4 separate regions of the Homo sapiens genome follow, and regions 1, 2 and 4 are each reported to be linked to region 3. Evidence: microRNA targets listed by miRTarBase, many of them from high-throughput screens and not tested one by one. Region 3 holds a microRNA gene; each other region holds the end of a gene's coding sequence.

Region 1 (3,000 bases), not on the chromosome of region 3:
TTTAATTCAGGTGGCTGGATTGAGTGTATACTGAAACTGCTCTTATTTTTTTATTTCAATTTAAAAAAACACATGCAGTTTGATAATAATATGTTCTTGATTTTCTCTTTTAGGTTGATTTTGAACTGGAGTCATTTTCTGAAAGGAAAGAAGAGGAGAAGGAAGAATTGATGGAATGGTGGAAAATGATGTCAGAAACTTTAAATTTTTAAAAAGGCTTCTAGTTAGCTGCTTTAAATCTATCTATATAATGTAGTATGATGTAATGTGGTCTTTTTTTTAGATTTTGTGCAGTTAATACTTAACATTGATTTATTTTTTAATCATTTAAATATTAATCAACTTTCCTTAAAATAAATAGCCTCTTAGGTAAAAATATAAGAACTTGATATATTTCATTCTCTTATATAGTATTCATTTTCCTACCTATATTACACAAAAAAGTATAGAAAAGATTTAAGTAATTTTGCCATCCTAGGCTTAAATGCAATATTCCTGGTATTATTTACAATGCAGAATTTTTTGAGTAATTCTAGCTTTCAAAAATTAGTGAAGTTCTTTTACTGTAATTGGTGACAATGTCACATAATGAATGCTATTGAAAAGGTTAACAGATACAGCTCGGAGTTGTGAGCACTCTACTGCAAGACTTAAATAGTTCAGTATAAATTGTCGTTTTTTTCTTGTGCTGACTAACTATAAGCATGATCTTGTTAATGCATTTTTGATGGGAAGAAAAGGTACATGTTTACAAAGAGGTTTTATGAAAAGAATAAAAATTGACTTCTTGCTTGTACATATAGGAGCAATACTATTATATTATGTAGTCCGTTAACACTACTTAAAAGTTTAGGGTTTTCTCTTGGTTGTAGAGTGGCCCAGAATTGCATTCTGAATGAATAAAGGTTAAAAAAAAATCCCCAGTGCATGTATTTCAGTTCTCTAAGATTTTTGGTCTGGCATTGTGGTCTTATGATGAAAACATGTATCCTCTTAATGGCGGCTTCTCATATATTCATCCTGTACATTTTAAAATTTGTTAAGCAACTACTGTGTGCTAAGCACTGCATAGCCTCTATGTATGTTATTGTGGCAGGCAAAAGGTTCTGATTTTGGGCACAACCTTTATATAAATAACACAAAAATTAATGTTTGGACACAAACTCTAAATCAGTAACACACTGGTTAATATGTAATTATGCATTGTGATAAGTAAAATGACAAGAAAGAGTAGGGAAAGAGAAAGAATGACAGAGCAACTTAAATTAGACTGGATGAGAAGAGTCAGGGATGCATCTTAATGCACAGACCTAGAATATTGAGTGGGTGTGAGCAGTGCAGAGTGCAGGGGTGTGTGTGTGTGTGTGTGCATGGTGGTGGTGGTATGGTTGATCAATGCTGCAAGTGTAAGTTTTGGTTAAAATCGTGCTGTTATAATAGTAGGCCCCCACATATATCCTGGGTTAAACACAATGGAAGTGTATTTTTTGCTCAGGTACCTATACTGGAAAAAGACAGAAAGATGGGGTGACTTTTCTTCACACAGTCTGGGACCACGTTCTGGGATCCATTCTGACAGAAGATCTGCCATCTTCTGCACACGTCCAACACTGCCGCATTGGTGGTCGTCTCCATTGCAGCCAATAGGAAAGGGGAAAGAGCAAGGGGGAGAATGTAGAGGGTGTTCTTATGGGCAGGCCTGGGAGTGGTGTACATTACTTCTGTTCACATCACACTGCCTGGAATTGTACATTCTTTGGCCACAGTAACTGCAAGGGAGTCTGGGAAAGGTAGTCTAGAAGTGTACCCAGGTAGGTGAGGAGAAGTGGACTTTGGGACAGAATAGCAGATGCAAAGGCATTGGGGTAGGAAACACATGGCTTGATGGAGATTGAAGAAGGACAGATGTACAATTGCCTAAGAGAAGCCCACAGTGAGAAGAAAAATGAGATTGAAACTGAGCTCTGAAGAGCTTCAAAATTTTGCTTCTTGAGGTTTAGATAAGATAGGATAGACTGGAGTATGCTGCCGTAAGAAGCAACTCCAAATCTTAGCGTTCTAACTTAATAGTAATTGATTTTTCATGCAAAGTCTGTAGGTCTACGTAACTCTCCAGGAACTTTGCGCTGCATGCTGTGACACAATTATGTAGAATGTTTCCACGTGCGGTTCTGCCATCTCAGCACAAGGTTTCCTCAGTCTCCTGTGTTGGTCGCAGAAGAAGATAACTGGGGCCACTACTGCCCACAGCCCACAGGTCAGAGCTAGTTACATGGCCTTGCCTAACCACAATGTTTGGTAAGCATTGTCACTGCCGTAGTCCTCTCTCTGGTGCCAACACAACTTTGCTCTCCTGTTTCCAAAAGTAGGACTCACTTTGCAAGGGAGACGATTTACAGCCACATCAAATCATGGCTTTGAGCTTCAATTTCAGGATCTCTGAGTGATCTCACAATAGTCTCTATGTCAGGTCTGTACATGGCCAGTCCTGTTTCAGGGACAAGTAAACTAAGAAGACAGGTAAAATGCATCCCTCACCCGCAGTGTGCAGTGGTAGAACAGGATCAAGACAATGTGAGGAAACACTTCCACAGTGGTGAGGAATGAGAGGGGCCCAGCATTCAGGCCTGCAGCAACTCAGAAATCTTGCCGAGCAAATACTTTATGGGCCTCCTATTTTGGGGGTGGAAAATGTTTCTGGTTTCAGAATTCATTCTACACTTTGGCAAGAGCTTTCTTTCTTTTCTTTTTTTTTTTGAGACGGAGTCTCACTGTGTCGCCCAGGCTGGAGTGCAGTGGCGTGATCTCAGCTCATTGCAAGCTCTGCCTCCTGGGTTCATGCCATTCTCCTGCCTCAGCCTCCCGAGTAGCTGGGATTACAGGTCCCCACCACCACGCCCGGCTAATTTTTTTGTATTTTTAGTAGAGATGGGTTTTCACCGTGTTAGCCAGGATGGTCTCGATCTCCTGACCTTGTGAGCTGCCCGCCTCGGCCTCCCA
Region 2 (4,486 bases), not on the chromosome of region 3:
CTCTGAGAGGCCTGCCCCTCTTTCCTGCCACCATCTGTCCCCGGCCCCAGGGGTCCCAGCCCTCACGGGCACCCACGGGCACTCCCGGCAGGCCCTCGGGCACGTGTGCCCTTCCCCAGTGAGGGGACCGAGGCCTGTATCTAGGTGAGGTCTCATTTCAAGAAGGGGTGGGGCTGGGGCTGGAGCCGGGGCCCGAGCCAGGGCATTCACATGCTGAGCCGAGCTCCCCACCCCTGCCAGGCCTCCCGCGGCCACTTCCGCCGAACCCCTCACCTAGATCCCCGCATGCTCCCTGCCTTATGGTGGCCCTGCAGGAAGCCCGCGTCCTGGGGTTTTCTGAGCCAGGGAGGGGAGTCAGGGTGGCTGGGCATGGGGCCCGAGGTGATGGGGCCCGAGGTGGGGCCGCTGGCTGCCGATGCAGGGCCCAGGAGTCACTTGACTTGGCCAGGGGCAGCCGACTGCCGGCCTCGGGAGGCAGCTTCTGGCCTGGACTTGGAGCTGGAGAGAGCAGGCAGGGTCCTCGATCGGGAACAGACGGGAACGGTGCACGGGTTGGAAGGAATGGGTGTTCACAAGCTGCCTGGGAGGCTCCCCGTGGGGATCCTGTCTGCACTGGCGTTGGCCTTGGCCCAGGCAGCCCAGGGGAGTCCAGGGAACCGGGCCTCACCTGTTTCCAGGGTGGCGCTCCAACCCCCTTTGACCGGAACTATGGGACCAAGCTGGGGGTGAAGGCCATGCTGTGGTTGTCGGAGAAGCTGCGCGAGGTTTACCGCAAGGGTAGGTGGTGGGTGCGACCCGAGGCCTCACTTTGCCCTCCCCTGGCTCCCTGGGGCAGGGCCTCACCATGGAGGGCTGCCACGTGCCTCTGTTTGCAGGACGGGTGTTCGCCAATGCCCCAGACTCGGCCTGCGTGATCGGCCTGAAGAAGAAGGCGGTGGCCTTCAGCCCCGTCACTGAGCTCAAGAAAGACACTGATTTCGAGTGAGTTCCACCAAAGCCTCGTGGAGGCGGGTGGGGCTGAGGGGTGGCCCAGACCTTCCCTGAGGCAGGTGTGCCAGGCCCAGCCCCACTGGCACCCTGACCCCGCAAGGCCTCCTGGGCCCCCATGCCCAGGTCCCCGCCAGGCCGTGGAGAGCAGGGACCATGCCCAAGTCTTCTGAGCACAACACTGGGCAATCCTTTCGGGTGGGCATGGGGGCACAGCGGGTAGCCAGGAGTGGGCACGCTTGAGGGCGGCTGAGGCTGACTCTGTGCTGTGCCTCCGAGGGATGGGGACCCCAGACCTGTCCCAGCTCCACGGATACCGAGATGTTCAGACAGAGGGGCATGCACAGGCTGCAGGGTCGGGGGGGGTGGGGGGGCTGGGGACGTGGCTGAAGAGCTGCCCTGACCCCTGACTCCCCATCATCCTCCCATCCCCGTCCTGCACAGGCACCGCATGCCACGGGAGCAGTGGTGGCTGAGCCTGCGGCTCATGCTGAAGATGCTGGCACAATACCGCATCAGTATGGCCGCCTACGTGTCAGGGGAGCTGGAGCACGTGACCCGCCGCACCCTGAGCATGGACAAGGGCTTCTGAGGCCAGCCATGCCCACGCCCCTCCCCAGCCCCCACCCATGCCAGCGCAGCGCCAGGGCTCAGATGGGGCCTGGGCTGTTGTGTCTGGAGCCTGCAGGCAGGTGGGGGCTGCGTCCCTGCTCAGCCCATCCCCTGCCTCTATCCCTGGCCACCTGCCAGGCCTCCCTCGGGCTGGTGTCTTGAGACCAGCCTGCCAGGCCCTCCAGCAGGAGGACAGAGTGCCCTGGGGCATCCACCTTCCTGCCCAGGGGACGTGGCGCTGTCGGTGTTTGGAGGCTGCTGCCCCCTGGCTTTGGCGCCCCATGGGCCCTCAGCGTCTCCCCATGCTGGGCTCACTACATGGGCCAGCCCTTGCTCTACCTGGCCGGTAGGCTGCTGGCGCCTAGGTTGTGTTGAGAGGGGGATGCCCCTGGCCCTGCCTCACTGTGACCTGCTCCTGCCCACGTGCAGCACCTGTCACCTTTTCTAGAAATAAAATCACCCTGACTGTGGGGTGCATCGGTCTCCGGAGAGCACAGCCTGCAGAACTCCTCAGAGAGAGGGGGGAGCAGCACCGAGCGGCCAGCCCAGTGGGCAGCAGCCCCAGGGGTGGAGGGCCCTCTGGCCAGTGCCTGGGCCAGGTCAAAGGGACATGTGCCCTGAGAGGCCACAGGTGCTCTCCAGGACTCCCTGGGGGCCACCAGGGTGACCTGAGCCCCTCCTGGTCCTCCCCTGGGGGCAGAAGGGTACAGCCTCACTCCTCTGTCTCCCCAACCTCAGCCTGAGTGGGGGTCTCCAACCTGCAGGCTGGTGGCTGGCTTGAGCCAGTATCCAGGAGACATTGATGGTGGACACGCAAGAGGGGAAAAGAAGGCAGCGCAGAGCTGCGCCCACCAGGGGCTAGGGCTGAGTCCTGCAGGCGGCTACGGGGTGGTGGACGCCCTGCTTGCAGGATGCCTGTTAACCTCAGCGTCGAAGCCTGCGCTCTGCATCATGAACGTGGGAGGTGCTTGCCCAAGAGGGCTGCTTCCTGCCCGCAGTGCCACCCTGGGGATGTGGTTTTGGGACACAGGAGGTGTCTCAAGGGAGACCCTGGCTTGGAGGGGCCTAAGGGCCACTTTGAGGGCCCCTGGGCAGTCTCCTGGTTGAGCTCAGGCCAGTGGGGTGGCCTAGGGACCTGGTGAAGGGGCTGGGGACCCTCTTGCCCTCGGGCACCTTGATATTCCCAAGAGCCCCTCACTGTGTTGGCCCTAGTGCCGGAGGCCTCCAGATTGCTTAACTCGAGCTGGGGTGGAGGGGCCCACACCTAGTGGCCTTCTAGTTCATTCTGAGCTGGGCCATCCTGGGGCCAGGCCCAGGAGTGGACAGTTGTCCAAGGACAGTGCTCCGGGGTCTGCAGCTCTGTCTCAAAGGAAGAGAGAAACAGGTTCATAGGCCCAGGGAACCACACAGGCATGCTCTGGGGGCCTCCGTTGTGTCACACCGTCTGGGATCAGGACTCAGTTCTGAGTAGACCCCCTCGGCCTGCCCTGCCTGATGAGGTGTTAGAACCTGTTCAGCTGCCACTCAGCTGCTGCACCCAGGTGGTCGCCTGTGGCTGATGCCCGGGACAGTGGCTGCCTCCCTCCTGGGCGACGTGGTGTGGCGAGCGCCTGCGTCAGGCCCACTTCTGGCTGCGTGGAGTTGGCGTTTCTGGCATTTCGGGCAGAGTGACGCGACCTCCTGGGCCCTTGGTCCTCTCCTGTGAACTGGGTGAATGGGACAGAGTGTGATGCCAGTGCTGCTCGGCTTGAGAACCCATTTTTGGGGTGACTTGGGGAGGAGTGGAGTGGGACTGTGGGGTGCCCCGGGCTGGACGTGCTTCTGGCTGTCCTCCATGGCTGGGTGCATTGGGTGAGGAGGTGCCGGGAGGGGAACAGGCAGGAGGCGGCAATGGTGGGGACGGGGTAGGGGGAACCGTGGGGCTGAAGGCAGGCAGCTGCCCCCACAGGTCCCACCCAAGGTGTGCATGATGTGGGGCAGGAGGGCGCTGGTGTAAGCCCCGCATGTCCACGGCAGCCCATGTCGGGGGAAGTGGAAGGGACTCAATTTAAAACGACCTCAACCATTCCAACAAAGCGCTTTACTGAGGGCACCCACTCCACAGTCCCAAGGAGGCAGACACAGGCCTGAACTGTCCACCCTCTATGTCCCGAGTGGTGACTCCACTCCCCACTGCTCAGAGATCACACCCCTTCTGGAGAGCTTGCATCCCTTCTGGAGAGCTTGCACGGATGAGTGACTGTCTTCACCCTGGGCTTCCCCAAGTCCGGCGACAGTGGCTGCCCCAGTGCTGCAGCTGGCTCTGGTGACGGTGGCACGGCATGGCCCCGAGCTTGGGAGAACAGCGGCCTGCACACACGGTCACGCATCACCGCTCGGCGGAGGATGGGAATATCTCATGGAGATCTGGATCTCAACCCCACATGGGACAAGGGCCCAGGGACCTGGCTTTCCTACACACCAGCTGGAAGGCTGACTCCCCATCTCACGTGAATGCTTCCTTGGTTTTGGGGGGCACTAGGAAGGTCCCCAGGGCCACGGGTCACTGCCCAGATTGTGGCATCCTCATAAGACTTGCGACTCTTCCCAGAGGAAAGAAAACCCCTCTCAGATGCTCCAAGGACTCCCCTAGTCTAGCTGCTTCCTGTGCCAGGCCCGGACCCCAGGGCGAACAGGCCTGTTCATCCACAACCTCACAGCTGAGGGCCCTCCTGCAGTTCTTCACAGGAGAGAGAAAGGAAGGCGCACCTGCCCAGCCCGGCCAAGAAAACAAAACTCTCTCCCATGGGTGCGGGAGGCTGCTGCCTGCCTGCTGAGCAGCTCAGGGCAGATGTCGCTATGGGTGCCAGCATTCTCGAAGTCTCCCTTGCCCAACAGAAATCTATCC
Region 3 (7,437 bases):
GTACCCTAAGCCATCCCCTGCTCTATGAATGAGAGGGGCAGAAGCAGGTTATTGTCTCTTAGGAGTTGGCATCTGCTTAGCCACTTGCTGCTGCAGGGGTTGCACTGACCCCTGTGCCTGCCTCTTCTCTCTCCCAGGAGCTGGTGTCCGATGCCAACCAACATGTCAAGTCTGCCCTGGCCTCAGTCATCATGGGTCTCTCTCCCATCTTGGGCAAAGACAACACCATCGAGCACCTCTTGCCCCTCTTCCTGGCTCAGCTGAAGGATGAGGTAAGGGCACCAGGATCTCAGCTCTGGGTTTGTGGAGGGGACAGGCGGGTCTTCCTAGATTGCTAGGGTTTACCTAGATTGACCAGGAATCTGCTGATATCTCAACAGACATCCAGATCTTTGCTGAGTTGCATGTTTGTGGGCATAGCTGTGTGTTCATGCGTTCATTCCTCCAGGCACTCTTCATGAGGCCTTTCCTGGACATGGAGGATATGAAAAATAGAAATTTAAAGTTTTTATTTATGGCCAGGCGCGGTGGCTCACGCCTGTAATCCCAGCACTTTGGGAGGCTGAGGCGGGTGGATCACCTGAGGTCAGGAGTTCGAGACCAGCCTGGCCAACATGATGAAACCTCGTGTCTGCTAAAAATGCAAAAATTAGCCAGGCATGGTGGCGAGTGCCTGTAATCTCAGCTACTCGGGCAGCTAAGGCAGGAGTATCACTTGAACTCAGGAGGCAGAGGTTGCAATGAGCCAAGATTGCACCACTGCACTCCAGCCTGGACAACAGAGCAAGACTCTGTCTCAAAAAAAAAATTATTTATTTATGTTTTGAGATAGGGTCTTGCTCTATTGCCCACACTGCAGTGCAGTGATGTGATCATGGTCTACTGCAGCCTCCACCTTCCAGGCTCAAGTGATCCTCCCACCTTAGCCTCCCAAGTAGCTGGGACTACAGGCAAGAGCCACCACATCTAGATAATTTTAAAAAACATTTTCCATAGAGACAAGATATTATGTTGCCCAGGTTGGTCTTGAACTCCTGATCTCAAGCAGTCCTTTTGCCTTGGCCTCCAAAGGCCTGGGATTATAGGCGTGAGCCGCTGCCCCCAGCCTAGAATAAGAGTTTTGATCCCCAAAAGCCTTCAGAGACTGGCAGTGGAGAGAGACAGGCAGTCCCATGATGCCATTAAGGTGTTACAGGTGCTGTTAAGGATGAGTTCATGTTTTTTAGGGTTTAGGCTAAGGTGCTCTAATATAGACCCCAGAATACATTCTGGCTTAAATTCGGTGGTGGATTTTTTTTCTCTCTCTCATAACAGTCTAGGACGAGATTCCTCACATGTGCTTGCACCCCATACACCCATTGGCCAGGAGGGTCACGTGACCACACCCAGCAGTTCAGGTTGCCTGTATTACAAAGGATGAGAGGCGGTGCTGGGTGATGACTGGAGAGATCATCAGGGTGACCACTGGGGAAGGAGTTTGGACTTGACTGTGGGCAAGCGGAAGAGCCAGAATAGAGTTGGTGTTAGAAGGCACCCTGAGGCTTATGTGAAGGAAGGATTGAAGTGAGGTGGCCAGCAGCAGTGTAGGCAGACCAAACCGGAGGCTGTGGGAGTCTGGAAGGCTGAGGCTAGACTAAGTGGTATGTAGAGATGAGGCTGCATTGATACGGAAGGATTCAAGATTGTTCAGGAGGCAGAAGGGACCACGTGGTGGTTTTTGCCTTGGTGGTGAAAAACTGGGCAGATGGTGCAATTGTGTGCTGGTGTGTGACATCTTTCCCAAAAGATGGGAAGTGTGTGAGGCTTCCCAAAAGCCTCAGTCTTTCTTCCCCATCCCCTTCTTTCTTTTTTATACACAGGCGCCCACACAGTCTGCTAGAAAGTTGGAGGAAATACTGTAACAGAAAGTACTGCATCACATTTCAGTCCTCCATGCCCCTAAAAGTTACGTTATTCAATTCTGTTACAGTGGAGTAATCTCTTAGCCCCAGAATTACAGTGAATTTTTTAATACATTGAAAAGAGTGCGCTATTTTTAATATTTTTTTGTTCTTTTTGTTTTTCCCTATTAGTGGGTGATTAACTGTACTGGTTTTAATCAGTTAATTACGTCAGTTGCTAAAAGTCTGAATCTTCATTAGTGTTCATGACAAATTTTATGACTTAAGTAATTTATCTGAGTTATGCTTCACATGCACATAGTTTTTATAATTTTATAGATATTAATACAATTTATATTTGTTTTTGATGCTTTAATGGGCATAATTTGGCAGGTGAGAGCCCCTCAAGTTGTCTGCTATGTCATTTCACACCTCTCCAGCGTTTTGGGGATCATTTTGCCTCTGGCATGAGGGAAGGATCCAGGCTCAGCCCAGTTTGAAGGCAAGCCCATACGTGCTGCAAGTGCGCTAGGACTGGAGCATTTTTTGCTCCAGTTTCACCTTCAGCAAGCGCTATATGGTAATCGTGTGCTGGCAGCCAGCCTGTCTCAGGGCAGCTTCTCTTAGAAGAAAAGAACCAGCATGGTTTTCTTGGTGTGAGGAATTCATCTGACTTATATTTGAGATTTCCATTTTAGATTTATAAACTTTATATTTTACATTTTGACTCTCACCAGAATTTATAAACTTGTCTAAATGAAAAAGGCTACCTTTTTACTGGTGCACCAAAAATAAGTCTTTTTAAATGGGTGAGGTATAGTCTCTGAGCCTTCTCTTCTCATGCACATGTTCAGCAGCTTGAGGCTCACACAGCAAGGGCTGGAGCTGGGCAAGGGCCAGTCCTATCCTCGGAATGTGCAGGGTTTCAACAGCCCAAGCCTGCCAGGCTTGTTCACTTGGTTATTGATTCATTTCAGTGCTCCTTTATTTATTTATTTTTTTAGACTAAAATAGTTTTAATAAGGAAATAGTTTTCTTCCTTCCCTTCTCCCATGTTGTGGATTGATACCCAGAAAGGAACCCTTGTTAGCAAGCAGCGGAGCTAGGATTAGAAGAATCATGTCTGCCTGTTTTTTCCAGGGTGCTGTATTTTCCTACTGTGATTCTTAAAGTCTTTTCAAAATGGATAAACATTTCTTGTGATACTATTGTAAGGTTTAAAAATCTGCTTAAGTTAGTGATCCATGCTGCTTGCTTTTTGTGTGCCGTTAATGTGTTCCCAGAACGGGGAGCTGGGCTTGGACAGGAGTAGTCCCTCGGGAGATGTCCATAAAAGTTGATGCAGCTGAGCTCTTTCCATCCTGTCCTGGGTTGCTGTGTGCATTGCATTCTCTCAGAATCCTTCTTTCCTCTCCTCAGTGCCCTGAGGTACGGCTGAACATCATCTCTAACCTGGACTGTGTGAACGAGGTGATTGGCATCCGGCAGCTGTCCCAGTCCCTGCTCCCTGCCATTGTGGAGCTGGCTGAGGACGCCAAGTGGCGGGTGCGGCTGGCCATCATTGAGTACATGCCCCTCCTGGCTGGACAGCTGGTGAGTGAGGAGGCCTGGGGGCCAGGCAGTGCTGCCTCAGGGGAGGTGCAGTATGTCCAGGGCTGTGATGGGGAAACGGGGCTTTGAAGGCTTAGTGGAGGCTGTGACAACTGCCTGGGGAGTCGAAGGAAGGGACCCAGGAAATAGGGCCTTAAAAGATGCATTGGATTCAATAAGAGAGAGGAGGGAAAGGAGCACCTCAGACAAAGTTGAGAAGTGTCCGGTCTTTCTAGGGTGGGTGTAGGTTCCATGGGATGTGGCTAGCAGCTCCCCCTGTTTGCTCTCCTGGAACGCTTACCTTGGAACCCTTGGTTTCTCCTGTAGGGAGTGGAGTTCTTTGATGAGAAACTTAACTCCTTGTGCATGGCCTGGCTTGTGGATCATGGTGAGTACCTTCACAGGAGCAGCAAGAGGAGATGGGAGCTCCAGAAAGGCAGGATGGATTGGCTGGGGCTGTGGCGGGCAGTGGAGGAGGCTAGAGTCACTCCCCACGCCGCTGGATGCTCGTATGGACCAGCTCGCATGCTTGTTAGAGTCCTAGAGAAGTGTTGAGTGGGAGGAGGACGAAACAGATCACCCAGGGGTTGCCTGGTATAGTGGAGAGCCAGAGGGCCACTGAGCAGCCAGACCAGGGTTTTGAATCCTGCCCTTGGGGCTGTCAGATCTAAAACAAGTCACCTGCTGTCTTTGAATGAGCCCCACACTCATTCTTTGAAACTTCTTATTCTGGTGCCTTGGGGCCATTATGAGAATGGCTCATTGTTTACACTAAGAGAGGTAAAAAATAAAAGGTAATATTTATCTCTGTGAAGCCCTGTTTGAAGTAATAAGTGCCACATAATTTAGGCAAATCACTTCTTAGAGCCTTAGTTTGCCCATCTGTAAAATGAAGCCAGTAGTGGAACCTACCTCTTGGAGTGGTTGAAAAGATACTGTATAAAAAAAAACAGTTACTAGATATAGCACATAGTAAGTCCTTTTTTCTCTCTTTGGCTCACATGCAGCCTGGCACCTAGGGGCTGCTTTGTAAGCCATGGTGAGTGTGACCTACATTTTGCCCACATCAGTTCTTCACCTCCAAATCCCTGTCTCTCTCACCCTCACCCTTCTGCAGTATATGCCATCCGCGAGGCAGCCACCAGCAACCTGAAGAAGCTAGTGGAAAAGTTTGGGAAGGAGTGGGCCCATGCCACAATCATCCCCAAGGTCTTGGCCATGTCCGGAGACCCCAACTACCTGCACCGCATGACTACGCTCTTCTGCATCAATGTGAGCCTTCCACCTGCCTGCTGGCCCATCCCTAGGGAACTGGAGCGCGTGGGAGAGGAGGGATGCTAGAGGGTTCCCCAAGGGAGACACCTGGCTTGGGAATGGAGACATGGAGTGCATCTTCTATCCAGAGATGAGTCCTTGGGGAACTGCAGGCAAGGGGGTGGGGCTCCCAGGGTCAGGGTCATAGGGCCTCTGGGACTGGGGACTTGGATGGTGAGGGACCCAGGGCCTGGGAGACTTGACCTGTTGGAGCAGCGATCTCAAGCTTTATGAGCACCCCTCTCCTTCCCTGAGAAATGTGTGTCTCTATCTGTGGTGCGTTGGGTGAGTGTATGGGCTCTAGGTCAGACCTAGTTTTAAATTCTGGTACTGCCATATATTAGCTATGGACCTTGGATAGTTACCTAACCGATGCTTTGGTCTTCTCATTTGTAAATAATTCATACTGTAAAGAATTCATACTGGTAATCACAGCCTGGTGAGCGTGAAGATTAATCAGGTTATACACGCACAGGGCTTAGAACAGTTATGCTACAGGTAGGAAGTGCTCCTGTCTATTTGCTTTTCCTACGATTATAATTATCTCATGTACTACTTATTTATGTGTAAACCATACACAGGGCTAGAAAGGAAGGGATTTAAAAATAAATATAACTAAGTGTTCTGATCATTTCTTCCCACGCCACTCTCTGGAGAGCATTGCTTTAAGGAGGGATCCTAGGGCTTGGTAATTAAGGTCGATCTCCAGAATAATTAAGGGAAGCCTGAGGACAGAGAAACTGGGACATGGTGTTAGGATGGTGTTAGTGGAGTTGGGAGATTCACTCCACTAACTGAGTCACCCGTATTGCTCAGCCTCTGTGGGGCCTGATGATCACCAGAGTGGCCTGGTCAGAGGCAGCAGGAAATGAGAGTTAGCCAGGAGCTTTGCATACTCACCCCTGCCACTCACTGGCCCCCAGGTGCTGTCTGAGGTCTGTGGGCAGGACATCACCACCAAGCACATGCTACCCACGGTTCTGCGCATGGCTGGGGACCCGGTTGCCAATGTCCGCTTCAATGTGGCCAAGTCTCTGCAGAAGATAGGGCCCATCCTGGACAACAGGTGAGGTCTGGATACTCCCCCACACACTGGCAGGGGCTTCTTGTGGGCACCTTAATCTTTGACCTTTGAAGGTAGAGCCCAGGGTCAGAGGCCTGGCAGCGCTCCTTGCTTGCTGTGTGACCTTGGCTCCCTTCCCTTCTCAAGGTGTGTTTTCTCAACTGTAAAATGAACATCACAGCATGAAATAGAAAGAGGGGGTGATGGGTTGGCAGTCCTGTATACTAGCAACAAGTCATTAGAAAATGAAATCACCTTATGTTTTATATGTAAGTATGTGTATAATTTATAATTGCACCAAAAATATCAAATAGCCAGGAATAAATTCAATGAAAGATGTGTATGTAACACCTCTAATGTAAACTGTAAAACACTAATGTGAGAAATTAAAGCAGACCTGACCAAGGTGGGCGGATCAGTTGAGGTCAGGAGTTCACGACCAGCCTGGCCAACATGGCGAAACCCCGTCTCTAGTAAAAATACAAAAAATTAGCCGGTGCGGTAGCACTCACCTGTAATCCTAGCTATTTGGGAGGCTGAAGGCAAGAGAATTGCTTGAATCCAGGAGGTGGAGGTTGCAGTGAGCTGAGATCATGCCACTGCACTCCAGCCTGGGCGATAGAGCGAGACTGTCTCAAAAAAAATTAAAGCAGACCTACATAATATTCACGGATGGGACAGTTCCCTGAACTCATCTTTAGATTCAGTATAAGCCCAATAATCTTAACAGGTTCTTTAGTGGAAAATTGACACTTCTAATGAACAAAGTTGTCTGATTTACACTACCAGAGACGAAGACTTATGACACCACAATAATTAAAATAGATGTGAACACAAGCATATTTAAATCGCCCAATAGAATGGAATCAAGGGTACAGAAACAGTCCCACATGTGTTTAACAGTAGGCATCTCTGCAGTTCAGTGGAGAAATGTATGTTTTTTAAAAAACATAGCTGAGTCAATTTGATATCCATTTAGGAATAAAAGAAGGCTCGCCTCAATGCATAAACAAATTAATTTGAGATGACAGACCAGAACCAGAAAGATTTTAAAAATAAAGGACCTAGAAGAAAATGTAGGAAAATATCTTCTTGAGTTAGCGTAGGCACAGATTTGTTAAACAGCAAACCAGAGGAAGTGATGGGTAAGTTGACCTTCTGTAAAATGTAACGCTGTTTCTCAAAAGACAGCATTTTGAGAGTAAAATGCAAGCCACTGACTGGAGGAAGATGTTTTAATATATGTTTCTGAGAAAGGACTCATCCACAATACCTGTCTACAAATCAGGCAAGACAAGAAAGAGATGGGGAAAAAGACTTGAATAGGCACTTGAAAAAGGATCTCCAAATAGCCAGTAAGCATATGACAAGGGTGTTCAGCATCATTAGCCTTCAGGAAAATGCAAATTAAATCTCAGTGACATATGACTACACGCCTCCCAGAACAGCCAACATTAAAAAAGACTCAGTGGTGCAAATGGTGAAGACATAGAAGAGCTGGAACTCTCATCCATTGCACGTGGGGCTGTACATTTAGGGTTTGATCACTCTGAAAACGGGAGTGGATCTGGAGTGGAATTTGGTGAAGCT
Region 4 (4,063 bases), not on the chromosome of region 3:
GACAGAGTGAGACTCTGTCTCAAACAAACAAACAGACAAACAAAACAAAAGAAATGACAAGGGGTGAGGACAAGATGACACATAATAGAGGAGCCTGGGCTCACCGTAGGAGAACTGGGTTAGGAGAGAGAAAGCCTGAGCCCTTCCTGGACTTGTTTGCCCTGGGCCAGGGTTTTACAAAACAGCATCTCTCTCTCTCTCCCTAGGAACCAAGATGACCCTTGTTGGGGCATTGAGAATATCATGAGTGCCACGGGGAAGGGGAGTAGGGATGTCTTTTCCCCCCCAGCAGTGATGAGTGGGGCTAGCTGAAGCCCATTGGTTTCCACGATTTCAATTGGCTGAGAAGGCAGAGAGCTAGCTCCTCCCTTTCTTTCTTTTTCCACCTGAGACTTGTTTATAAAAAACAAAACAATAAAAAGAGTCTGATCAGAGCCCAGGGCCCTGTCTGTCTGGTTCTGTGCAGCAGGTTGGGAAGAAGGGGACTGCAGGGTCCTGTATATCAACGCACACTGGTAGCTTCTGCTTCCCCTTCCACTCCGTCAAAAGCACTAAGTTAGGCCAGGCACAATGGCTCACACTCATAATCCCAGTGCTTTAGGAGGCTGAGGCAGGAGGATCATTTGAGCCCAGGAGTTTGAGACCAGCCTGGCCAACCTAGAAAGAACTTGTGTCTACACACACACACACACACACACACACACACACACACACACACACACACAAATAAATAAATAAATAAATAAATAAATTAGCCAGGTATGGTTGTGTGCACCTGTCATCCTATCTACTTGAGAAGCTGAGGCAGTAGTATTGCCTGAACCCAGGTGTTGGAGGTTATAGTGAGCTATGATTGTGCCACTGGACTTCATCCTGGGTGACAGAGTGAGACCCTATCTCAAAAACAAACAAACAAACAAAAAACTGAAAAAACACTAGGTGGGGACTGTACCGTCCTGCTTCTTAAAGGAGTAAGAAGCTCACTGTTCCCGAGTTACAACCATAGAGACTTTCCAAATGCCCAGTAATAAGACACATGTTCCACCTTTGGAAGGTCAAGCCAGGCCCTTCTTTAGTGCCCTCCTCTGGGGTCTGTCTACTTTCCCACAAGAAAATACACCCCTCACAAAAAATTATTTTGAAAAACTCAAAGAAAGGAGGAGCTTATGGGAGAAACCCCAGGCAAGAAGGAAGAGCATGCTTTTTCAAACCATCTGACTCCGTCACAGAGGGTATGTACAAATGGGCAGCTCTTGGTGGGCCCAGATGTGATTGGGTTGATGGGCACAGAACTGTTAAGACTTTTTTGTGGTGAATGCCGTGGTCCTCGTCACCTCCTGCCCTGCATCCCGTGTGCTCACTGGTGACCTGAGGTTTTGTTCCTTCTCGCTTGCTCCACCCTTGACTCAGTGACTTCCCTGGACTCTCTGGGATTGGCAGCTGCCCTCCAGTCCCAGGCCCTGACCTCGTCTGCCCCTTTGACCTGTGAGTGTACAAATCTCTCTTTCCCTTTCAGTCTGGCAAACAGGGTTGGGATGTTTTCAAAAGGAATTTTACCAGGAAGCTAAAAAGAAACCAAAACAACCTCCTCCCCGCAACTGCCACAAAATCCAGATAAGGAAAAGCAAATACAGAGGAACAGATGTGTATGTGGAATACTGATTCTTCCTCCTGAGATCACAAAAATCTGGCCCAGACTGTCCTGATTAATGTGGTTCAGGAAGCCCCCAGTCCCCATGGTCCTGCCTCATTCAGCCTCTCAACTCCCAGTGGCCTCCAAGTAGAGCTGCTGGGTTTGAGGGATGAGCACCCCCTTTTAGGCTCTGCTTCCTGTGGCCCTGTCATGCTCTGTAGCATCCCCTCCACCAACTTGTGGATTCTGCCCCCGACCTTTCCCGCCAAGGGAGGAAGACGCAGGCCTGCCTACCCTCCAGTGCCTCCTGTGGCTCAGGCCCTGGAAGTCCTGCTTCGAGGTTCATCTCTCTGTTCTGTTTTTTTCTTTGAAGGGTGTTCCTAAGCCAACCGTGACAGGTGGTTCTACCTTTTCTGGAGTTCAGCTGCTTTGTCTATTTTAAGAAACCATCTGGGACTGCTGAAAGCAGTTTTCTCCTCAGGATGGGTGAAATCAAGGGGTTAATTTGATCAAGTCTGCCTGCCCTGCTTGCTTTTTGTTTTTTCCCTTTTTCCATGGAGCACAAAGCTTCTTTGGTAGCTGAAGGCCTCGCTGCTGAATGTGGAAACAACCTTCACTGGCTACTTTATAGGTAACATTCATAGGTCACTATGAGAATGGGCGCTACAGTCATTTTTCAGGAACTTGGGACAGCTCTTGTCCAGCTCAAACCAATCGAGACCACCGACTTTTCTACTGGGCCTCTGCAAGTGCTCGAGGGGTGGCCTTTTGACATCGGAGGGCCAAAAACTCCACCCTCAGATCATAACACAACCATTTTCTTTTCTTTTTTTTTTTTCTTTTTTTTTTTTTGAGACCGAGTCTCTCTCTCTCACCCAGGCTGGAGTGCAGTGGGCGATCTCGGCTCACTGCAAGCTCCGCCTCCCGGGTTCACACCATTCTCCTGCCTCAGCTTCCTGAGTAGCTGGGACTACAGGCTCCCGCCACCACGCCTGGCTAATTTTTTGTATTTTTTTTTTTTTTTTAGTAGAGACGGGGTTTCACCATGTTAGCCAGGATGGTCTCGATCTCCTGACCTCATGATCTGCCTACCTCCGCCTCCCAAAGTGCTGGGATTACAGGCGTGAGCCACCGTGCCCAGCCAGCAAAACAATTTTCTACACAAATGTCCTTATGAAATGCCATGAACCCCAAGTACACTTGGGCAGAATGAACCTATTACTTCATTTTCCCCACAGCCAATCACCCTTCCCCATGCCTTAGACCATCCCACTTCCCTCAGCCATAAATATCCCTAAGGCTTATCTTGAGGAGGTGGATTTAATATAAGTTGCCAGGACCAGCAGACCCTGAAACTCCCCACCCCTGCCCTTCCTATATTCTGCTTAAAATTTGGTGGATGAACCTCATTCTCCCTTTAATTGCAGAACAGAAATGTGTGACACTCCCTGAGTGTCAATGAATGCCTGATCCCTGCCTAACTCAGGAAATTCTTGCCATCTCTCCAGGTGCTCCCCTAAAAATGGTGCTCCGGGGAATGATCTCACAGAACTCAAGTCTTTACCATTTTATGGTATCAAATTTCTTAAGCTCATAGTGACAACAGTACGAGGATGGTGCTTTTGACCTACGGTCTCATACCTCCCTTCCTTCAGCATCCTCGCTAGACCCAGCCTTGAACCCTTTGTTTGGCATGAGGTAGGGCCTCAGTGCCTCAGTGGCATTCATAATTATTTTCTTTCCATGGTGAGGTTGGGAGAGAGTTGAGCTCTTCTCTAGAGGAGGGGCCCAGGTAAGGCTGAGAGGGGGCTCCGAGAAGCTCCTTCCTCCACAGCCCTCTCCCAGCAGCCACTGCTGTCCTCCACAAAGGCACCTCTGGCTCCTCCACTTCCTGTGATCCAAATGGTGGGGGAAGAGCAGCAGGCAGGGCTGCTCCTCAGGCCAAAACAACCTGGTGGTGGGAGTGGATGGCACAGAGGAGAAAGCAGTGGCTAGGAGTCAGGTGGAGATGATGTTTTGCTCCCTGAGGGCTCCAGGTCAGCTTTGCTCTAATTTTGTTTTCATTTGTTTTCACAATCGTGGAGGGAGAACTCTCTGGAGGCTTGGGAAGGTGGACCCCAGCTGCAGAGAAACACAGGCCAAGACCCACACACCACAGCCCAGGTCTTGTGGGTGGACAGGAGAAGTGGTTCTGATTCCCGTCTGGGAAGTCTCAGGGACACGGTTCAGGAGTAATCTACAGGAGAAGCTGAAGGACAGTGGAGTTATCTCCCTTGCTCCTTATCTCCCTTCCCCAGTGCCAGGCTTCCTCCTGGCTTCTTCCCAGAGGCCCTCTGGTCAAGATGAACACATTAGCCAGGAAGACAGACACTCACCACCAGCCTTGGGCATACGACAGTGGAGCTGACTTCTCTGGGAAGAGATCTGAGA

The links. The annotated mature microRNA hsa-miR-6801-3p reads ACCCCUGCCACUCACUGGCC and lies in region 3 at 5,683-5,702, shown strand. An mRNA with a match to its seed (bases 2 to 7 or 8) in the 3' UTR can be bound and repressed. Matches are read on the target gene's strand: a 7mer-m8 pairs with bases 2 to 8, a 7mer-A1 pairs with bases 2 to 7 and ends in A, and an 8mer does both.
Region 1: miRTarBase lists CPE as a target of hsa-miR-6801-3p. The part of its 3' UTR that is shown has no 7-base or 8-base seed match.
Region 2: the mRNA of PFKL is a reported target of hsa-miR-6801-3p. Seed matches in the 3' UTR shown: 7mer-A1 at 1,824-1,830.
Region 4: the mRNA of ROBO4 is a reported target of hsa-miR-6801-3p. Seed matches in the 3' UTR shown: 7mer-m8 at 2,996-3,002.

Annotation. Positions count from the first base shown.
Region 1 is chr4:165,497,399-165,500,398 of GRCh38, forward strand. CPE (carboxypeptidase E) reads left to right here. Exons shown (of 9, transcript NM_001873.4): 9 at 114-1,149. The coding sequence ends at 212. Among named protein-coding and RNA genes, the nearest start is that of MIR578, 110 kb to the left of the region's middle.
Region 2 is chr21:44,325,284-44,329,769 of GRCh38, forward strand. It overlaps PFKL (phosphofructokinase, liver type), which reads left to right. Exons shown (of 22, transcript NM_002626.6): 20 at 678-777; 21 at 876-981; 22 at 1,432-2,090. The coding sequence ends at 1,579. It overlaps CFAP410 (cilia and flagella associated protein 410), which reads right to left. Exons shown (of 7, transcript NM_004928.3): 7 at 3,661-4,486. Among named protein-coding and RNA genes, the nearest start is that of CFAP410, 12 kb to the right of the region's middle. RefSeq lists a silencer at 2,983-3,277 and an enhancer at 4,236-4,365.
Region 3 is chr19:52,216,392-52,223,828 of GRCh38, forward strand. MIR6801 (microRNA 6801) reads left to right here and starts at 5,629; the gene lies at 5,629-5,707. PPP2R1A (protein phosphatase 2 scaffold subunit Aalpha) reads left to right here. Exons shown (of 15, transcript NM_014225.6): 9 at 138-272; 10 at 3,300-3,473; 11 at 3,798-3,858; 12 at 4,588-4,742; 13 at 5,708-5,850. RefSeq lists an enhancer at 5,169-6,368.
Region 4 is chr11:124,881,033-124,885,095 of GRCh38, forward strand. It overlaps ROBO4 (roundabout guidance receptor 4), which reads right to left. Exons shown (of 18, transcript NM_019055.6): 17 at 4,009-4,063; 18 at 2,659-3,881. The coding sequence ends at 3,859. It overlaps ROBO3 (roundabout guidance receptor 3), which reads left to right. Exons shown (of 28, transcript NM_022370.4): 28 at 207-439. The coding sequence ends at 218. Among named protein-coding and RNA genes, the nearest start is that of ROBO4, 15 kb to the right of the region's middle. RefSeq lists a silencer at 1,741-2,035.